Regions from separate parts of the Homo sapiens genome. Here regions 2, 3, 4 and 5 are each linked to region 1. The links come from fine-mapping of genetic effects on gene expression. A gene starts in region 1. Each other region holds a variant in brackets. All regions are shown on one strand. Distances are between the middles of the regions. Region 1 holds the start of CD177 (CD177 molecule). Region 2 has its middle 26 kb from the start of LINC03078. Region 3 has its middle 6.1 kb from the start of LINC03078. Region 4 has its middle 16 kb from the start of PSG9. Region 5 has its middle 17 kb from the start of PSG11-AS1.

What was found. PIP is the estimated chance that this variant, and not a neighbour inherited with it, causes the effect.
Region 2: its variant is the best candidate, but not a certain one, in a credible set for the expression of CD177 in whole blood (GTEx, PIP 0.86).
Region 3: its variant is the best candidate, but not a certain one, in a credible set for the expression of CD177 in subcutaneous fat (FUSION, PIP 0.81).
Region 4: its variant is the best candidate, but not a certain one, in a credible set for the expression of CD177 in whole blood (INTERVAL, PIP 0.78).
Region 5: its variant is the best candidate, but not a certain one, in a credible set for the expression of CD177 in whole blood (INTERVAL, PIP 0.68).

What each region holds. Positions count from the first base shown.
Region 1 is chr19:43,351,414-43,355,830 of GRCh38, reverse strand. CD177 (CD177 molecule) reads right to left here and starts at 2,145. Exons shown (of 9, transcript NM_020406.4): 1 at 2,065-2,145; 2 at 1,838-1,978; 3 at 1,439-1,624; 4 at 48-170. The coding sequence starts at 2,116.
Region 2 is chr19:43,303,464-43,307,880 of GRCh38, reverse strand. It overlaps the pseudogene CEACAMP4. Among named protein-coding and RNA genes, the nearest start is that of LINC03078, 26 kb to the left of the region's middle. The variant A/G (reference allele first, on the strand shown) is at 2,512.
Region 3 is chr19:43,323,222-43,327,638 of GRCh38, reverse strand. No RefSeq gene overlaps it. Among named protein-coding and RNA genes, the nearest start is that of LINC03078, 6.1 kb to the left of the region's middle. The variant A/G (reference allele first, on the strand shown) is at 1,875.
Region 4 is chr19:43,283,322-43,287,738 of GRCh38, reverse strand. It overlaps the pseudogene CEACAMP11. Among named protein-coding and RNA genes, the nearest start is that of PSG9, 16 kb to the right of the region's middle. The variant A/TA (reference allele first, on the strand shown) is at 2,462.
Region 5 is chr19:43,135,475-43,139,891 of GRCh38, reverse strand. No RefSeq gene overlaps it. Among named protein-coding and RNA genes, the nearest start is that of PSG11-AS1, 17 kb to the left of the region's middle. The variant A/G (reference allele first, on the strand shown) is at 2,469.

The DNA.
Region 1 (4,417 bases):
GACCTTCCAGTTCAGTCCCCACAGGGACCCCGATGTCCCAGGCTTACCTCCCCTGAGCCTGAGGAGGCCATCATAACAGTGTGTGGTCCCCTTGGGGCAGATCTCTTCTGTTGTCCCCTCCAGACAGCCTTCCATAGACAAGCAGACTGGGCACCTCAAGGATCCTGGGTCTAGGAAAGTGACAGACAGAGTGAGGGGGCACTGAGAGGGCACTGGATTTGATCAGATACCTTCTCTGCACCCCACTTTTGCTGGCCTCAAGAGTCAACCTGCTCAGCCTTCCCAAAGGGGCCTTCTGCAGCTCCCATCATGGGATCTGGATGTGGGAAAATAAAGAAGTGTAATCCATAAAAGAGGAAGGGAGAATGAACAGGAGGTCTGGGTAGAGGCACCCAGGGCTGGGTACAGAAAGTGGTCTTGGCTGGGTGTGGTGACTCACACCTGTAATCCCAGCACTTTGGGAGGCTGAGGCAGGTGGATCACGAGGTCAGGAGTTCAAGACCAGCCTGGGCAACATAGTGAAACCCTGTCTCTACTAAAAATACAAAAATTAGCCGGGCGTGGTGGCAGGCTCCTCTAGTCCCTGCTACGTGGGAGGCTGACGCAGGAGAATCGCTTGAACCCGGGAGTCGGAGGTTGCAGTGAGCCGAGATTGCGCCACTGCACTCCAGCCTGGTCGACACAGCGAGACGCTTTCTCAGAAAAAAAAAAAAAAAAAAAAAAAAAGAAAAGAAAAGGGGGGGTGTCTTGGGTGGCAAGTGGGGGTGGGGGGTGGGCAGGGTGGAGGAGGGGCCTGCTGAGGCCAAATGTAGACTCAGACATGGTCAAGTCTGAACCTTTCAACAAAGTCTGGCCTTCCGAGGGGAGACACAGAAGCAGACTCATTGGTCAAGGGAATGAGGGGGTGCCCTGGAACGAGCCAGTGCCTTCACCTGCAAGCGCTACTAAACCTCCAAGAACAGGAGACTTCTGTGTTCACAAGCTGTTCCAATAAAAGAAGCGCAAAATATCTCCCTAGACTCTTTATAACACCAGACAAGGAAAGTGGAAAGTTACAGTTCAGTCTCCCTTAGGAAGAGGAAATAGCAAAAACCCTGCAGGAGAACTTCTTGAACCAAACGCAACAGAATAAAAAAAGAATGCAGGATAACCCAGTTAATGGTGATTTCATATCAGAAATCCGTCCTGTTTGCTCTTAGAAGAGGAGGGGTGCGGGGATTCCCGGGTGGCAGGTCGGTGGGAGGGATCGGGAGTGAGTGGGGAGGGATGGAAAGGGAGCGGGGCGGGGCGATGGTCAGGGAGCAGTCAGGGGAGGGATGGAGCCAGCGAGGGTCGGGATAGCGAGCGAGGGTGGGAGGGACTCCGTAACAGCCCCTCTGTGCTCAGCGGATCCCCTTCTAGCAGCCCCTCCCTCTCCTCCCGACCCTCCCGCAGGCACCTGCTGGGGGCTGTGGGGCCCAAAGCGGGAGGGAGTTAACGAGGTTGTTGCAGAAGTCCTCCTGGCGGCACACGAAGGTGTAGGAGATCAGGGAGAGGCCGGGGCCCATCCGGTGCTCAGTGACGCGGGGCTCCTGGTCCTTGGCCTCCGTGCAGCCCTTGGAGAGCACCAGGCTCACTTGGGGTCCTGGACCGAAAGAGGGAGGCAAGCGAGGATGGAGGTCAGGCCTCCAGGGTCCTGGAGGGAGACGCTGCTACACGGCGTAGGCTGAGAGGCTGGAAAGGGGATCACCGGGACCCTAGGAGTCGATCCCCCGGAGGGGTGGCTCCCGGGTCCCTGCACAGGGATCAAGGGACTGAGGGGACAGGGCGGGGTCTCTGCACGCCAGGGCCTTCTCACCGCTCTCAATGAGCATCAACGTGTCCTGGCACCCCAAGCCGCTGTCGCAGCTGGTGTTCTTAGGGGTCCATTGCCGGGGCAGGTCGGACACCTTCCACACATGCTGAACTGTCCCAAACTGGCAGAGCAGCGCCTGCACTCCTGGAGTGGCAAGAGCAAATCCATCTCAGCAGGGTTCCCTTGCCCGGCCTCCAGGGAATCTCCTCCAGGCTGGGCTCATCACTCACCTGGCAGTGGGAGGATGAACCCCAGGAGGGCCAGCAGTAATACCGCGCTCATGACCCGTCTGTGGCTGGTAATCTCTTTCTGCTTTTTCAGCAGGAAACAAGTCCTTTATACCAGCCCTTAAGCAGCCAGCCCAGAAAAGGGTGGGGAGGGGAGGGCCTTGCAAAATGGAGGCTTGGGCCCCACCCCAAGTCTCAATGGCCGCAGTGGCCTATCAGGGACCCCCTTTCTTCCTCAGACCTTCGGGTCCAGGCATCCAGCCCCTCCTCCCTCAGATGGAGGGTCCAGGACCCCCAGCCCCTCAGCCCCTCCTCCTTCAGACCCAGGAGTCCAGACCCCCAGCCCCTCCGCCCTCAGACCCAGGAGTCCAGGCCCCCAGTCCCTCCTCCCTCAGACCCAGGAGTCCAGGCCCCCAGTGCCTCCTCCCTCAGACCCAGGAGTCCAGCCCCCCAGCCCCTCCTCCCTCAGACCCAGGAGTCCAGGCCCCAGGCCTCCCTCTCTCAGACCCAGGAGTCCAGGCCCCGAGGCCCTCCTCCCTCCGACCCAGGAGTCCAGACCCCCAGGCCCTCCTCCCTCAGACCCAGGAGTCCAGGCCCCCAGGCCCTCCATAGTTAGAAACTGTGGCATCTTGACCCGAGGTTCCCCCGGTCCAGACTCCCAGCCCTCTTTCCTCCTGAGCCCAGCTATGTGGATCACCACCCCCACCCTCTTTCTCCAGTAGTTTGGGAAGGCAGTTTCCTCATTTCTCATGGGCTCCCTGGCCACCTCTGTACCCCAGATGGGGAAATGGCCCAACTACCTGTGAGGACGTTGTGCAGTGGGCATCAGCTTGTCCCCATGTCTTCCGGTCCTAGTTTCTACCCTCCACTGTCTTCCCACTTCTCTGTTCTTTCTCTTTCCTTCTTATATTGCTTTCTTTTGATTCTTCTTTTCATGCTTTTCTCTCATGCTTTCTCTTCTATTCTCTACCCTCACAGTACAACATAGGACTCAAGTCCCCAGTTTCCTACCACCAGGAAAGGCTTGGCCAGAGGTGGAGTAGAGACTGAATATCTATGAAAGAATTAGGATATATCTGAAAAATGCAACATTTATTTGCTGGAAGCCGATGGGAGAGCAGTGTTGTGCTGAAAAACCAAGTTTTCTGAAAAACAATACCCACAAATCCTGCCTCGTAGTGTTGGCCTATTTCTCTGGTGTAAATACTCATAGCATGTCTGATTTTAAGCTACCTACAGTTTGCCAACCAGGCTGATGAAATCCCTAGCTATTTAACCATGGGCTTGTCCAGGGCTGTACAAATCAGCTGTAACACACTGGGGTGGCGGGGAGGAAGACAGGAAGGAACCTGGGGTATCTGTCAGTGACTGCAGAGGGACGTTGTGGGTGTCTGTGACGGAGAGAGGAGAAGCAGAAGAGGGAAGGCGAGAGCAGGAATAGCAGAGAAAGAGAAATGAATGTGACTTGCAATTATATGTTTATTTTTGACATCTCTATAAATTTTATCTTTATTTGTCTTTGCAAGTTTATTGCAAGTTTAATATTTGCCACACAGACAGGGAAGTGTTTGTCTGATCTCCTGCTATGTCTCCACCACCTACATGGCATACAGTACATGCCCAGTAATTTTTTTTTTTTTTTAGAAACAGAGTCTTGCTCTCACCTATGCTGGAGTACAGTGGTGCAGTTGTAGCTCACTGCAGGTCACTACAGCCTCCATCTCCTGGACTCAAGCAACTCTCCCACCTCAGCCTCCCGAGTAACTGGGACTACAGGTGCACACCACCATGTCTGGTTAATTTTTGTATTTTCAATAGAGACAGGGTTTCACTATGTTGTTCAGGCTGGTCTCAAACTCCTGACCTGCGGTGTTTTCATTTTGAAAAATTTCAGGCTGGGAGCGGTGACTCATACCAGTCATCCTAGCACTTTGGGAAGCCAAGGCGGGTGGATCTATTGAAGTCAGGAGATTGAAACCAACCTGGACAACACGGTGAAACCCCATCTCTACTTAAAAAAAAAATACAAAAATTAGCCCGGTGTAGTGGCAGCCACCTGTAGTCCCAGCTACTCCGGAGACTGAGACAGGAGAATCGCTTGAACCCAAGAGGCAGAGGTTGCAGTGAGCCGAGATCGCACCACTGCACTCCAGCCTGGGCAACAGAGTAAGACTCCATCTCAAAAAAAAAGACGGAAAAATTTCAAACCGGCAGAAAAGTTGCAAGGATAGTACAGTGAACACAAGTATCCCCTTCACTGGATTCACCCACTCTTCACATTTTATTGTATCTGTTTATACACACACAACATATGCTTTTAAAATATTCTTAAATTTTAAAAACAAGGAGTAGACAT
Region 2 (4,417 bases), 48 kb after region 1:
TGCAAGAAGGAAAACCCAGGAATGGGCAGAAGAGCAGAGGAGAACCCAGGCTCTGTGGAGCTGCAACCTAGAATGAGACTGAATGTGAAGTTATCTCACCAGGGAAGGTCAGGCCTCATGAACAGGAGGGGAAGGAGCTCCCACCTTTCCTGCTCCAGACAGAATGTGCCCCCTCAAAATTGTTAAAGCCCTCATCCTTAATGTGATGAAATTTGGAGGTGGCATTTTTGGGAGATAATTACAGTAAGACTAAGTCATAAAAGTGGAGGCTTCATGATAGAGTTAATGACCTTATAAATAGAAGAAAACATGGGAGAAGGGTCTCTACCTCTTTCTGTCTCTCCACCCACCTTCAAGCCTGCACCATGTGCAGATACAGCAAGAGAGCAGGAATCTGCAAGGAAGCCCTCACCAGGACTGAATCAGCTGGAACCTTGAACTTGGACTTCCCAGGCTCCAGAACTATGAGAAATAGATTTCTAAATTTTAAGTCACCCAGACTAAGGTGTTTGTTACAGCAGCTGAAGCCCATGAAAACATCATCTGACACACTGTTTTGAATAAAACTCTTCCATTTCTCCATCAAATCACCTGACAGTGCCTGTCCCCAGCAGCACCAGAGACCCCAAGAAAAGAGCTCCAGCAGGGGCTCAACCAGCATGGGTCCCATGGGGCAGCCTCAATGTCAGGCACCAGATGGCAGGTGAGGCTATAGTGATACAACCACAATGTGAAAGTACAAATTTTTTTTTTGCTATTTACAGACTCTGAGGAGCACATGGCACACCTAGAGATAATAGACACAGAGGTCAAGGAGTCCAGGCAGAGAGGAAAGTAGGGACCTGTAGGCCAATGGCTTTAGTGGGTCCAAGGCGTTAGCTGAGGTTTCCAGCAGAAAGCTTTAATGGGTGAGTTTAAAGCAAGCAAACACTGGGGCCAGGTGACCACGCTGTGACTGAGAGGTGGTCACTTTAAATTTCAGGGCAAATTTCACAACCGTCAGTTTAAAGGAAGCAGCTGGGTAGAGGGGGAGCCCAGCACACTAAGCAGGAGAGATGCCTCTAAGATTTTATCTCTGGCCACCAACTGCAGCCATTTGGCCAGGTACAGTATTGGGAACTGTCACGGTGACCAAGCCCTGCCTCTGATATAAAGCAGGTAAACTTACACCTTAATAAATGAATGCCAAGGCAACATGAAATTACGAGCACTGGTGACATCCACGGACACCAACAGTGTGTGGTGTTGAGCCCTAAGGTCAGGGTCCTGCATTCTTGGTCCCCTGGGAGTGAGAAACAAAGATGACTTGTCCCTGCTCCCTCTCTGCTCCTCTGTCATTGATCTTCCTGCCCTGCACCTCCCTCTTCTGCTTCCAAACCTCTGCCCAGTGCTCAGCCCCACCCAGACATCACTGTCCCCAGGGCATACACAGTGCAGCCCACTGCACACAAACACAAACTCACAGGTGACAGAAATCTGTGTTTGGGACATCTGATTGTGATAGAGGGAGGATAGTGAACTTACAGTCACAGAGACTGAGACTCATGGGGCTGGAATGTGATGGATCTGTGACATAGGTGAATAATCTGCTGTGAAATGTGCAGATTCACATGGAATAAAACATGCAGCCTTGCCTGGGGCTGCTGTCATCCAAATTTCCCCCATGTTCACCAGAGGATGGCAGAATCCCAGCCACAAGACTCCCCAGGGGCTGCTGACCCAGCCAAAAGGGCATCTGCAAGGGCAGCGATGGTCCACATGATGCCATATTAGGCACTTTACCCTTGTGACCTCTTTCCATCCTTATCAACTTTTTCTGTGACTGCTCCCTACATTCCCACCCCACTCCCTCTGTACGGTTCTCTAGGTTATCCCAGGCTGATCCCAGTGCTGACACAGAACAGCAGCTGCCTGAGTGCCCACAGTATTCCTAGGAATCAGCCAGGCACCCTATGACCTGCCCATTGCACGCTAGGAGGTGCAGAGGGTGTTTGAAGGTCACGCACAGGCACCATCCATGATGTGGCCACCTGCTGGAGGTTTTTCTACTCACCCACAATCTGCCCCCTGCTGTCTCTCGTGAAGCTGGGAGGGAAGACAGGGCTGTCCTTTGTGCATGGGGAAGGTGAAGTGGGGGGTATGAGCTCCTTTTGTTCTCAGAACATGGCCCACCCCCACACACCCTCTCAGGTGTGAGCAAAGTCCCTTCACGCAGGCTCTCCAGCCACTGCCTGTTCTTCTTCTACACAGAGGAGCTTGATCTGCCTCAATCCCTCAAGAGGAACCCCAAGGGATGTATAGCAAGAAGGGCTAAGCCCATCCTGGCTGCAGAGTAAGTCTGCAGAAATCTCTCCAGCTCTGAGCCCCTGTTCTTTCCCAGTCTCTCTCTCTGGGTCTTGAAGAGCTGTGTTCTGTGGGGACCCTGGGCATCACCCCACTCCCTTTTGCACCAGCCGTGGGGAAGGTGGGGTGACCACAGGACAGTCAGCTGGGCCAAGGACAGAGGACACC[A/G]AAGATGGTCAGGAAGAAAATGGATGGGCCTCACCCCAGCTCAGCCACCAGAACCCAGGGACCAAGAGAGTGGCTGAGACCTGTCCCTGGTGAACACTGGGCCCATAGGCCCCACTGACCAATCAGCACAGGCCTTTCCTACCAGGAGGCATAAGAGATTGATCCTGCACACCTCCACGAAGGAAAATACCCTCTTGGACAACCGGGTCATCGAATGTCTAACCATGGAAGCTGTAGCAAAGTTCAACATAATGAAAGAGAGGGAGGGTCCTTCTCACCAGCCAGCACTCAGCCCACCCAAAGCAAGGTGAGGGTGCATCACTGTGACAGGGTCATGGTGCAGCCCAGCCTCCTGCTTTGAAGAGAAAAGCCAGATGGGAATGGGAGAGGGCAGGGGGAGCGACTGTGCACCCTGACCTGGAGCAATGGAAATGGGAGGACACTGAGGGCCCAGGGCTGTGCTTACCAAACCTAAAGGATGTCTGTGTGTGTGTGTGTGTGTGTGTGTGTGTGTGTGTGTGTCTGCACATAGTGTGTGTAGAGGTTGGGTGAGAGAATCACTGCTGAAGGAGGCAGAGGACTCAGCAATTCCCAGGGGCCTGAAACACAGACAGAAGAGAAACAGAAAGGAGGGACAAGGAAGCAGGACTGAGAGGGGAGGGCACAGAGAGGTGTCCTGGGTACAGACCCCACCCATGAGCCTGAGAAGTGCTCCTGCCCCAGGAAGAGGCTCAGCATAGAAGGTGGAAGGACAGCCCAGCTGACAGCCCTGCTCAGAAACTTTCCGGATCCCAGGCTCATCTCCACAGAGGAGGACAAGCAGGCAGCACAGACCATGGTGCCCCCCTATCAGTCCCTTTCTCCAGATGGCACATCCTCTGGCAGAAGCTCATGTTCACAGGTGAGGAGAGAACTTCCTTGAAGAGGAAATGAGAAGGCACAGGGACTGGCTTGGGTCTCCTGGGGAAAATGGGGCTCCTGGGGAAAGAGGACTTAGAGCTTCTACTGCTGCCTTAACAGAAAAGAGGACACCAGAAGGGACAGGATTAAAACAGGAAAATCACATTGAACTGAAATTTATGGTAAGAAGCAAACAAATCTCAAGTGTTCTCTATTCCCGGTTAATCATCACTGGCCACTACATTTTGAAAAATGATCATAATAACTATATCAGATAACACTTCATATAAAAACATAGTGAGGGTATAAGGCATTGTCATCAGCCACCAACTTCAGAAATTGGGAAATAAATCACAGGCCTTGGAGGGCTCTGGGAATGCTCACAAACTCATTCACAAGAGTCCACAGCATGTCCCAGGCACTGCGGTACAACCAAGATCATACAAGTCCCTGCCCTCATGAACCTGATGCTGTTATGGGGAGGGGAGCGAGACACGCAAGGATATCTAGAATGTGAGGTCAGGTGTTGACAAGAGCCCTGGAGAAAACTGAGCAGGGAAAAGTGAGAAAGGGAAGACCCAGAATCTCTAGTGGAGGTGTCAAGAAAGGGCTCTTTCAAGGATGCCCTGATGTGAGCAGGATATGAGGTCAGTGGAAAGGGAACCATGCAGACCCCTGGGGAAGAGGATTCCACACAGGGAAATGCCAAGTTCAGAGGTGTTGAAGGAATGGGGGTCATGCTGCTGACCTTGACCCAGCAGGACACACACACACACACACACACACACACACACACACACACACACACACACACACACATTCTCTCTCTCTCCAAGGCTCATGGGTGAAGAGAACCTCTAAGGACAAAGGGCCCCAACTTTCCATCCCAATACATAGGTTTTGATATTGACTGATGCTCCCTCCCCATCCTAGCCTCACTTTTAACCTTCTGGAACCCACCCACCACTGCCAGAGTCACTACTGAAGCCATGCCATTCAATGCCAC
Region 3 (4,417 bases), 28 kb after region 1:
TCTCCCGCCTGTCCCCTCAGTCCCAACCCCAAGCGTCGCTGAGTCTTTCTAATCTTCCTTTTCTACAGACCCATCTGACCTCTCCCCTCCTTGCCAGGCCAAGCTAGGTCCCAATTCTTCCTCAGCCTCCGCTCCTCCACCCTGTAATCTTTTTATTGCCTCCCCTCCTCACACCTGGTCCGGCTTACAGTTTCGTTCCGTGACTAGCCCTTCCCCACCTGCCTAGCAATTTACTCTTAAAAAGGTGGCTGGAGCTAAAGGCATAGTCAAGGTTAATGCTCCTTTTTCTTTATCCCAAATCAGATAGCGTTTAGGCTCTTTTTCATCAAGTATAAAAATCCAGCCCAGTTCATGGCTCGTTTGACAGCAACCCTGAGACGCTTTATAGCCCTAGACCCTAAAAGGTCAAAAGGCCATCTTATTCTCAATATACATTTTATTACCCAATCTGCTCCCGACATTAAATAAAACTCCAGAAATTGGAATCTGGCCCTCAAACCCCACAACAGGACTTAATTAACCTCACCTTCAAGGTGTGCAATAACAGAAAAAAGTTGCAATTCCTTGCCTCCACTGTGAGACAAACCCCAGCCACATCTCCAGCACACAAGAACTTCCAAACGCCTGAACCATAGCAACCAGGCGTTCCTCCAGAACCTCCTCCCCCAGGCGCTTGCTACACGTGCCGGAAATCTGGCCACTGGGCCAAGGAATGCCCGCAGCCTGGGATTCCTCCTAAGCCGCGTCCCATCTGTGTGGGACCCCACTGAAAATCGGACTGTTCAACTCACCTGGCAGCCACTCCCAGAGCCCAAGGAACTCTGGGCCCAAGGCTCTCTGACTGACTCCTTCTTGGCTTACCGGCTGAAGACTGACGCTGCCTGATCACCTCAGAAGCCCCGTAGACCATCACGGACGCCGAGCTTTAGGTAACTCTCACGGTGGAGGGTAAGTCCATCCCCTTCTTAATCAATACGGAGGCTACCCACTCCACATTACCTTCTTTTCAAGGGCCTGTTTCCCTTGCCTCCATAACTGTTGTGGGTATTGACAGCCAGGCTTCTAAACCTCTTAAAACTCCCCAACTCTGGCGCCAACTTAGACACTACTCTTTTAAGCACTCCTTTTTAGTTATCCCCACCTGCCCAGTTCCCTTATTAGGCTGAGGCACTTTAAGTAAATTATCTGCTTCCCTGACTATTCCTGGACTACAGCTATATCTCATTGCCGCCCTTCTTCCCAATCCAAAGCCTCCTTTGCGTCCTCCTCTTGTATCCCCCCACCTTAACCCACAAGTATAAGACACCTCTACTCCCTCCTTGGCGACTGATCATGCACCCCTTACCATCTCATTAAAACCTAATCACCCTTACCCCACTCAACGCCAATATCCCATCCCACAGCACGCTTTAAAAGGATTAAAGCCTGTTATCACTCGCCTGCTACAGCATGGCCTTTTAAAGCCTATAAACTCTCCTTACAATTCCCCCATTTTACCTGTCCTAAAACCAGACAAGACTTACAAGTTAGTTCAGGATCTGTGCCTTATCAACCAAATTGTTTTGCCTATCCCCCTTGTGGTGCCCAACCCGAACACTCTTTTGTCCTCAATACCTTCCTCCACAACTCACTATTCCGTGCTTGATCGTAAAGATGCTTTTTTCACTGTTCCCCTGCACCCCTCGTCCCCGCCTCTCTTTGCTTTCACTTAGACTGACCCTGACACCCATCAGGCTCAGCAAATTACCTGGGCTGTCCTGCCGCAAGGCTTCACAGACAGCCCCCATTACCTCAGTCAAGCCCAAATTTCATCCTCATCTGTTACCTATCTCGGTATAATTCTCACAAAAACACACGTGCTTTCCCTGCTGATC[A/G]TGTCTGATTAATCTCCCAAACCTCAATCCCTTACAAAACAACAACTCCTTTCCTTCCTAGGCATGGTTAGTGTGGTCAGAATTCTTACACAAGAGCCAGGACCGCACCCTGTAGCCTTTCTGTCCAAACAACTTGACCTTACTGTTTTAGCCTAGCCCTCATGTCTGTGTGCAGCGGCTGCCGCTGCTTTAATACTTTTAGAGGCCCTGAAAATCACAAACTATGCTCAACTCACTCTCTACATTTCTCAACTTCCAAAATCTATTTTCTTCCTCATACCTGACGCATACACTTTCTGCTCCCCGGCTCCTTCAGCTGTACTCACTCTTTGTTAAGTCCCACAATTACCACTGTTCCTGGCCCGGACTTCAATCTGGCCTCCCACATTATTCCTGATACCACACCTGACCCCCATGACTGTATCTCTCTGATCCACCTGCTATTCACCCCATTTCCCTGTATTTCCTTCTTTCCTATTCCTCACCCTGATCACGCTTGATTTATTGATGGCAGTTCCACCAGGCCTAATCGCCACATACCAGCAAATGCAGGCTATGCTATAGTACAAGCCACTAGCCTGCCTCTCAGAACCTCTCATTTCCTTTCCATCGTGGAAATCTATCCTCAAGAAAATAACTTCTCAGTGTTCCATCTGCTATTCTACTACTCCTCAGGGATTATTCAGGCCCCCTCCCTTCCCTACACATCAAGCTCGAGAATTTGCCCCCACCCAGGACTGGCAAATTAGCTTTACTCAACATGCCCGAGTCAGGAAACTAAAATACCTCTTAGTCTAAATAGACACTTTCACTGAATAAGTAAAGGCCTTTCCTACAGGGTCTGAGAAGGCCACCACAGTCATTTCTTCCCTTCTGTCAGACATAATTCCTCAGTTTAGCCTTCCCACCTCTATACAGTCTGATAGCAGACCAGCCTTTATTAGTCAAATCAGCCAATTAGTTTTTCAGGCTCTTAGTATTCAGTGAAACCTTTATATCCCTTACGGTCCTCCGTCTTCAAGAAAAGTAGAACGGACTAAAGGTCTTTTAAAAACACACCTCACCAAGCTCAGCCACCAACTTAAAAAGGACTGGACAATACTTTTACCACTTTCACTTCTCAGAATTCAGGCCTGTCCTCAGAATGCTACAAGGTACAGCCCATTTAAGCTCCTGTATAGATGCTCCTTTTTATTAGGCCCCAGTCTCATTCCAGACACTGGACCAACTTAGACTGTGCCCCCAAGAAAACTTGTCATCCCTACTATTTTCTGTCTAGTCATATTCCTATTCTCCATTCTCAACTACTCACACATGCCCTGCTCTTGTTCACACTGCCAGTTTACACTGTTTCTCCAAGCCATCACAGCTGATATCTCCTCGTGCTATCCCCAAACTGCCACTCTTAACTCTTGAAGTAAATAAATAATCTTTGCTGGCAGGACTATGCTGAATCTCCTTAGGCACTCTCTAATCAGATGTCCTAGGTCCTCCCAATTCTTAGACCTTTTATACCTGTTTTTCTCCTTCTTATTCCATTTAGTTTTTCAATTCACACAAAACTGTATCCAGGCCATCACCAATCATACTATATGACAAATGTTTCTTCTAACAACCCCACAATATCACCCCTTACCACAAGATCTCCTTTCAGCTTAATCTCTCCCACTCTAGGTTCCCACCCGCCCCTAATCCCGCTTGAAGCAGCCCTGAGAAACATCGCCCATTCTCTCTCCATACCACCCCCCAAAAATTTTCGCCACCCCAACACTTCAACACTATTTTGTTTTATTTTTCTTATTAATATAAGAAGGCAGGAATGTCAGTCCTCTGAGCCCAAGCCAAGCCATCGCATCCCCTGTGACTTGCACGTATACGCCCAGATGGCCTGAAGTTACTGAAGAATCACAAAAGAAGTGAAAAGGCCCTGCCCCGCCTTAACTGATGACATTCCACCATTGTGATTTGTTCCTGCCCCACCTTAACTGAGTGATTAACCCTGTGAATTTCCTTCTCCTGGCTCAGAAGCTCCCCCACTGAGCACCTTGTGACCCCCGCCCCTGCCCACCAGAGAACAACCCCCTTTGACTGTAATTTTCCATTACCTTCCCAAATCCTATAAAATGGCCCCATCCCTATCTCCCTTTGCTGACTCTCTTTTCGGACTCAGCCCACCTGCACCCAGGTGAAATAAACAACCATGTTGCTCACACAAAGCCTGTTTGGTGGTCTCTTCACACGGACACGTATGAAAAGAAAGACATGAGATTTGAGAGAAACCAGGGAAAGAATGATATGTTTTGGATTTATATTCCCACTCAAATCTCATGTCAAGTTGTAATCTCCAAAGTTGTAGGTGGAGCCTGGTTGAAGGTGATTGGATTATGGGGATGGTTTCTCATGGTTTAACACCATTCCTCTTGGTGCTTTCCTAGTGACAGTGAGTTCTCAGGTGATCTGGTTAAGAGTGTGTAACCCTTGCTGTCTTCCTCCTGCTCTCACCTGTGAGATGCCTTGTTCTGCCTTGGCCTTCCACAATGATT
Region 4 (4,417 bases), 68 kb after region 1:
AGACCACCCCCACCCCATCATTAGGTCTCCCCACACAGGTCTGACCATCATGCATCGTGAGGAGGACTCTAGCATAGGCTCAGAAACCATACAAAAGAATTAGCCACAGAGAGAAACACTGAGCTAGAGGAGCTGGTTGCTGACATGGAACAGGTTCCCTGTAGTTCAGGAGTCCAACTCGGTCTGAATTTCCCTCACTTCATAAGCCAGGCACCCCTGAGAAACAGCTTTTTCCCATGGTCTCCTCTGTGGTAACACATTAGGGTCCCTCGCTGTCAAGATTCTAGAGATGGAAGAAACCTGGACAGCACACATCCCAGCTTCACCCTTCCTCTCTTTCTCCCTCCCTGCCAGGAATCAGGGCTCAGGGCTCAGGAGGAAAGGCACAGCCCAGTGAGGCCAGAGTTGGTGAGATGTCTGAAAGGTGTTCAGTGAAAAAAGTGCATCCCTCTTTCATTCTACCTGATGAGCCCTGTCCTGCACAGCTTCCTCCACCCTGAGGACTTCCCCAGACACCCTCTCTAACAAAGCTGACTGCCCCGTTTCCTTTCTGCTCACACTTAGGCCTGTCCTGCCTTCTGGGAAATGTAAAATGCACCAAAATCAGCCAAAGCAGCCACCCCTGCCAGGATCCATAATAAGGCAATGTCCCTGGGTCACCAAGAGAATGAGCTTCCACTGTGTCGCAGTCCAGGGCTCTTTCCCTCTGAGAGGCTGACTCATGAAACAGGCCACCAGAAAGAGATCAGTGACTCCTCCATCCATTCTTATAATCACCTGACAGGTTCTTGCCCTCTGCGCAGGCAAAGCCAATTTATTGTGAAGGTGATGTGTAGTAAAAAATGGTTTTGCTTAGCCCAAGGCTGCCAAACAGGAGGATAGAAGTTTATTATGACTCAAATCAGCTTCCCCAGTGGCTCAGAGGTTAGAGTTTTTCAAAAACTTTGAGGGGCAAAGTTCTAAGGAATAAGTACTGTTGACTGGCTAAAGATGAAATGATGCCGGTAGGGGAAATGGTCTGTATTTGTTGAATCTGCCTCTGAGTGGGGGGCCACATGACTGGTTGAGCCATTGGTCATGAGTCTAGATGAGGTCAGCTGGTTGCCGGAATGCAAAAATCTGAGAAACATCTCCAAAGACAAATCTCAGATTCTACAATAGTGTTGCTATCTATAGGAGCAACTAGGAAAGTCACAAATCTTGTGACCTCTGGACACATGACTCCTGAGCAGTAAGGGATTATAGAAACTATGCCTGCATTTTAGCAGAATTTGGGCTCCTGCATAATTCATGGTCTTTTCTTAGATTTACCACGGTAGTCCCCGACAAGGAGGGAGCTAATTTTAGGGAGGGACTATTATCATCCTTGCGTCAAAGTTAAACTATAAATTCCTTCCATGCTTACCCTGGCCTATGCCCAAGAATCAGAGAGGACACCCAGCCTGAGGCTAGAGGTGAGATGGGGTCAGCCAAGCTAGCTTCCTCTCACCATCATATGCTTTGCAAAGGTGGTTTCACTTTCTACATAGACTCACCAGGTGGTCAGACGCTGAAGGACAGACCTGCAGTTTCCAAAGCCCATGGGCTCATTTCACCCATTTCACTCATGACTCCATCCTCAACCTGCTGTGGGGCTCATATCCTCCAGTCATGCCCTAGAGACTTCGAATTTCCGCCAGGCATGTAAGTAGCTTAAAAATTTTCACTCAGTTCTAACAACAAGTAAAAAGCTGAACAAACTGAAAAAACAACAACTCATTTAGATTTGTCAGAGAAGCAAGGTCTCAGTGCTAACTGGCCCACATATTGAAGAGACCCACAGGCAAATACAGAGCAGCGCACCGTACCTGAGCAGAAACACAGGCACAGAAACCTCAGCGGGAACCAGTGCTGGGGTCAGAAAACCTCAACTCTAATTGAGGAAATTCTGGAGGCTCAGTGTGGACACAGCGCAGAGATAAACACACCAGTGGATGAATTAGCCTTGGGAGTAGGGGGACAGTTTTATGACTCTTAGCTCCTGGAGCTCTACCAGGTTCTCACAGTCAATATCCAAAAAGAATCCCTGCATCCTTCTTGTAGGAGAGAAGGGAAAAAAACACTTGGAAAGTTGTCAGTGAATTATATTCTTCTTGGTAAGACCTACATTTAAGAGGAACTATTTTACTGCAGCCTAATTAGCTGGGGTTTGATGGGAGCTTAACTGGCCAGGGGGAGGGGAAATATCCAACTCCAGCCTCCTCAAGTCATCATATCCCACCTAATGGAAAGAAAAACCTGAGAGGCACTTGTGACATTCACAGCCCAGGACACAGATCTCATCCAGAACCACAGAACCCTTCCCTCCCCTCACTCACCACCATGTCACTGAATGCCTGCTCACTCAAGTCCCTTTTACCCAGTACATCATGTGTGGTTTTCAAAAAAATACAAGACAGACTATGGCAAAAAAAAAAAAAAA[A/TA]ATAATGCAGTTTGAAAAACAGAGCAAGGATCAGAACCAGACACAGATGTGGTAGGGATGTTGAAATTATCAGACTGAAAATTTAAAACAACTCTGGTTAAGGATTATGATGGAAAAAGGAGACACCTTTCAGGAATAGATGGGTGATTTAAACAGAGAGATGGCTATTCTAAGAAAGAAGCAAAAGAAATGCTAGAGATTAAAAACACTTTAAGCGAAATAAAGAATGCCCTGCATGGGCTTACTGGTAGGCTGCCCACAGCTGAGGAAAGAATCTCTAGCTTAAGTGTGTGTCAATAGGAACTTCCAAAACTGAAACAGCAAAGTTTAACAAGAGTGAGAAAAAGTGGAACAACATATTCAGCTTCATATTCAATATTTGGTATTGACAATAGCATATTTTATATTCTGAAGTTGTATTTTATATTTTGTAGCCTACAAAGGCTGTAACATACACATAATGGGAATACTGGTGGTTCCTAGGACCAGGTGGAGCTGGCCAGGTGGGTGCTGTTTGATTTACTGCCTGTTTCATGCACACCTGTGTACTCATAATAACAACAGTGTCATAAGGTGGGGTCCTTCGGGTGGGGAGATGCATGAGCCACTGCTGCCTCACTTAGACTCTGCCCAATTTAAACAAAGTTAATCAAACTCTAATTATATGACCCTGCTCAATTCACAGTTCACCAGTATTGCTGCTTGATTCACAGTTCAGAAGTCTGTGCATCTCCCACACAGAGCAGGTGGCCCCATGGTCTCTGAGCCCTCAGATCATCATGCATCCATCTGTCTTTTGACACACAGAACTGCTGTGGGCTTTTAAGGACTTGGATTGGCTGAGAGGTGGGAGATGTCAACTCTGATTGGAAAATGCTCGTGGAGAAATCAATGGTGCCACACAGGGGAATCTTCTCTGTTATCTGCACAGTGAATCTGCCCAAGCCCTATGTCACCAGCAACCCCGCGGAGGATGAGGAGGCTGTGGTCTTAACCTGTGAACCTGAGACTCATGGCACAATCTACATGTGGTGGGTAAATAGTCATAGACTCACACTCAGTCCCAGGCTAAAGATGTCCAATGATAACAGGGTCCTTGCTCTACTCAGTGTCACAAGGAGTGACACAGGACTCTATGAATGTCAAAGGAAGAATGTAGTGAGTACCAGCCACAGTGACCCAGTCACCTGGATGTTCTCTGTGAGTATCCTCTTTTCCTTCATGGACAAGGCTGCCAGCCCAAATCCACATAACACGAGGCCAGGCCTCTCAGTCCCTCTCAGGTCCAAGTATGAAGACACTTACCCCTGGACCCCCAAGCTGGCCATGACTTTCTGTCCCAGGCAAACCTGGGTAGGCCCAGGAAGGGAGGGGCTTCTCCGGTCTTAGGGGACTCTGGTTCCATAGCTTGCGATGGGAGAACACGTGAATGTCTTAGACTCCTCCAGTTCAGTGAACACAGAAGAAATTTGGCTGGGACTTCAGGGTTGTGACTTGGCAAAAAGGAACATTGTGTCCCTTTCACAGACCAGGAGCTTCCCATTCCCTCTGATAACATTACCTGTGGCTTTATTCTCTTTGCTCCAGATGGCCCAGATGAACCCACAACTTATTCTTCAGACACCTATTACTATGCAGGGTCAAACCTCAACCTCTCCTGCCTCATGGGCTCTAACCCATCAGCAGAGTATTCTTGGCTGCTGAATGGGAATAACCAGCAAACAGGACAAGAGCTCTTTATCCCCCAAGTCACTACAGAGAATAGTGGGGACTATCTGTGTTATGTCCATAACCCAGTCACTAATGGCAAAAACTTCGCAACCAAGAAAATCACAGTCCCTGGTAAGTGGATCGCTGGAGCATTGGCAATATGCTTTCAGGTGAAGCCTATCTGGCTTTCCAAGAAAGAGCCAGGAAAACATTTTTATTCTCAGCCTGTGTCCCATGCACAAAAGT
Region 5 (4,417 bases), 220 kb after region 1:
AGCAAGTGTAGTTGAAACTGAAATTGACATCAAGGGGACACTGATTTTCTCATTTTTAGTTCCAAGATTCCAATATACGTTGTTTTAAAACTTATATCAGGCAAAACTGCACGTACAGCATGTGTATTCATTTCAGAAAAATAATTGCATAAGTGGTTAATGACACCAGGAAACCTAATTTTTGCAGACTATATATGTATTACCTCAAAATAAGAATATTATTGCATTACATTCATTTTAATAATATTTAGTAACAAACCCATATGTATCTTATAAAAAGTTATAGTCTATTTTGTTCCAATTCAATAAAAATCATTGATATTAATTAAGCAACTTCTATATACAAGGTGAGTAGTTTTCAACTGTGAGTCTGTTTTGTCTTAAGGAAGTTAATATCCCTTAATCCAAACTTTCAAAATAGTATTCAAGGAACAGGAATGTTATTCTTAAGTTGAAAATACTTTGCCCATACACATAATCTAGTTGGATCCATAAAGAGATTGTGGTATTTTGATACCTAATAATTTCTTTATTAAAAAAGAATTTATCCCCTAATAAAATTAAAAATAACTCTCTATGAAGATAGAGAACTAGACCTGCTGATGTTAAAAATGAAAAACTCAGTTGGATATTGCAGGTTTTCATGAGCAGCAGAGTGTCAGAGCTTTGGACATGAGTTGTTTCATTTTGCATTTCATAGCCCTGTGTCCAGAAACTTCATTTTGAAGTTTAGACAAAGTGGGGAGCAGAGGGCAGTATGGGCCAGTCCTGTGAATTTTGCAGTTCTGCATAGGTAGATTATTAGATAGATACACAATAGATAGATCATAGATGGATAATTATGATGATGATGAAGATAGATACATACATATATACATACATACATAGATGCATGGATGGACAGATTTGTTTTTTGTAAAAATTAAAATTATAAGAAACACCCACAAGACTCTACAATAATAATTAGAACTAAATCTCTCAGAGATGTATGTCTTGACATTCTGGGGCCAGAAATGACATTTTTCTTCTTTTTAAAATACCTTTCCTAGAAAGAGTTGCATGATGAATACTTCTTGAGGATACTGTTGAAAAAAATCTCCACATAGAAGTTTGAACTTTTCATGTAAAAAAAAGTGCATGTGTGAATCCAGAAAGCACATTTGTGTTACTCAGTATCACCACTTATATCAGTTGGGATGGTTCAATTTCAAGTTACATAATACCTGAGTCAGATTGGCTGAATCAACATGGACATGACTTTCTCAAGTTAAGGAAAGGTCCAAGGTAGGGCTGGTGCCCTGCTTTGTCTTGTCCCATCCATACCCTTTATTCCAAATCTCTCTCTTCTACCCTACCCTAACCCATAGCCAGCAAACTGTAATATGCCCTCAAATGTTTCTTAAAATATTCTTCTCAACTTCTGTCCTTAATTAAAACTAAGTTGTCCTCTGAGGACCCTGACTCTGTTTCTATCTGTCATCGCTTAGGGCTTGGTTGGGTCACAGACATGACTGCTGCTTCAGGACCATCTCCCTTCCTTTCACCTTGAAAAGTCCTGTCTCTTGACAAGTCATGCTATTCTGCTCTATTGGCATTTACCCATCTCTCTTTGCTGTCTTCTATCAATCTGCTGGTCACACCCCAGTATGTATTGACAATTGAAGCTCTGGGGTTCGCATGATACTTTCCACCTCACTCTTAGCAGTACATTGGCTTGGTTCAGCATCCATGTTGATGCCCTCCCTCCACTCCAGTTGTTCTTCCCTGAACTTTGTCATCACCACTTTTGGCACCCCCTTTAAAATCCCAATGTACCAATTCTCTCCAACCCCTAGACCATAATAAGCTCTAGGGAGCCAGGAACTATATGTTCCTTACATTCACCCACTCCACACCCCACACTCAGCCTCTGCCACATAGGACATGCTCAACAGATATTTGTTGAACAAATTAATGCCAAAATCAATTTTCCTGTCTTTTACAAATTCATTATTAAATGAAAACTTTAGACTTATTCTCAAGTTTCAGACAGAAAGTCTCTTTTTGGAGGTTGAGAAGGTATTTATTGTTAATTAAGGCATAATTTACATTAATAAAAATGCATAACCGTATTCGTCAAGGTTCTCTAGAGTGACAGAAGTAGTAGGATAGATGTATATACAAAGGGGAGTTTGTTAAGGAGCACTGACTCACGTGATCACAAGGTGAGGTCCCACAATAGGCCATCTGCAAGCTGAGGATCCAGGAAGTCAGTCCAAGTCCCAAAGCCTCAAAAGTAAGGAAGCCGACAGTGCAGCCTTCAGTCTGTGTTCAAAGGTCCGAGTCCCAGAGTTGAAGAACTTGGAGTCTGATTTTCGAGGGCAGGAAGCATCCAGCTGGGAGAAAGATGTAGGCCAGAAGACAAAACCAGTCTAGTCCTTTCCCGTTCCTCTGCCTGCTTTTATCCTACCACGCTGGCAGCTGATTAG[A/G]TGGTGCACACCCAAATTGAGGAAGGGGCTGCCTCTCCCAGTCTACTGACTCAAATATTAATCTTCTTTGACAGTACCCTCATAGACACACCCAGGAGCAATACTTATATCATTTCAATCCAATCAAGTTGACACTCAATATTAACCATCACAATAACTTTTTGTGGTTTTTTAAAATTCTATTTTGAGTTGTAGGATCCTTTATATATTCTGATGAGTTTACACAAATATATTCACCTGTGAAAACATCAGCCTAATAAAGATAAAGAATATTTCCATCACTCCAGAAAATTTCCTCATATCACCAAACCCCAAAACTTCAGGCAACTGCTGTTCTTATTACCATGGCTTTCATGTTGCCTCTACTAGAACTTTATATAAATGGAATCATGCAACATATTCTATTTGGTATCTGGCCTATTTAACAACATACTATTTCTGAGATTTATATATGTTTCCATTGCAGGTAACAATAGTTATTCCTTTTTTTATCTGTTAGTAGTATGTCGTTATATGAATATGTAACAGTAAGTTTATCCATTTATCCTTTGGTAAGCATTTGGGTTCTGCTCCATTTGAAGTTATCATGAATAATGCTACAATGAATATCTGTGTACAGGTCTTTGTGTGGATGAATATATGTTTTCATAACTTTTTGGTATATATCTATAAATGGAATTGTTGAGCCATAGGGTAGTTATTAAAAGTAGTTGCACCATTTTATATTCTCACCTCAATACATGAGCATTCCAATTGCTCCACATCCTCATCAAAACTTAGTATTGTCAGTCGTTTTAACTGTAGCCATTCTAATGGGTAGGAGTATCTCATGGTTTCACTTTTTATTTCCTTGATAACTAATAATATCGAGCAACTTTTCCTGTGATTGCTAGCTATTTGCATTTCCTTTTTTGGGAGATTTTTGTCCAAATAATTTGCTCATTTTCTATTTTTTTTTTTTTTGCGTGTGTTTTTGTTTTATTTTTGTCTTTTTATGTTGAGTTTTAGAATTCCTTTACATATTCTGAACACAAATACTTGGTTTCAAAGTCAGTGAATTGCCTTTTCATCTATCTTGAAGAGCAGATGTATTTTTGATGAAGCACAATTTATGATTTTTTAATGTTTAGTGCCAGGTATTTGTAGAAGGAGTCTTTGTCTACCTTTGCTTTATTGTAAAAGCTTCAAAATTTTAGATTTTATGTTCAGGTCAAATCTCAGTTGATCTTAATTTAATGCTTGTGCAGAGTATGGAGTAAGGGATCAAAGTTCATTTTTATCCATATAGGTATCCAGTTTTTCCAATTCCATGTGTTGAAAAAGACTATTCTTTTCCCATTGACTTGCATTATCAACTTTGTTTAAAATGAATGGACTGCGTAAGTGGCAGGAAGTTTTGTTTTGTTTTTTTTTTAAATATAATTGAGCCTTTAAAAAGGCCAATCTTTGTTAAAAGTTAAACAAAAGTTAAAAGTGATGATGACAAAGTCCTAACTGGCTGTCCTTGTGGCTTCAAAGCAGATGATGGAACAGTGGAGCGAGTTTAGCATGGAAGGGTGAAGGAAGCTTTAGGGACATTCATCATTACATCTCAGGGGAAAGCTGAGACTTTCTTTATACCCGGAGATATATGTCAGCCAATTCTGTTCAGGTTGCATAGCCTCTGATGCCAGTTTCTGAGCGTTACCTATTACATCTGTCAGAGACATTTGAACAAGAGCAACTCCATCTTGAATAAAGGCTGGGTAAAATGAGGCTGAGACCTACTGGGCTGCATTCCCAGACACTTAAGGCATTCTAAGTCACAGGATGAGACAGGAGGTCGGCACAAGATACAGGTCATGAAGACCTTGCTGATAAAACAGGTTGCACAGAAGCCAGTGGAACTCCACCAAAACCAAGAAGACAACGGGAGTGACCTCTAGTCATCCTCACTACTACCTTCCCAC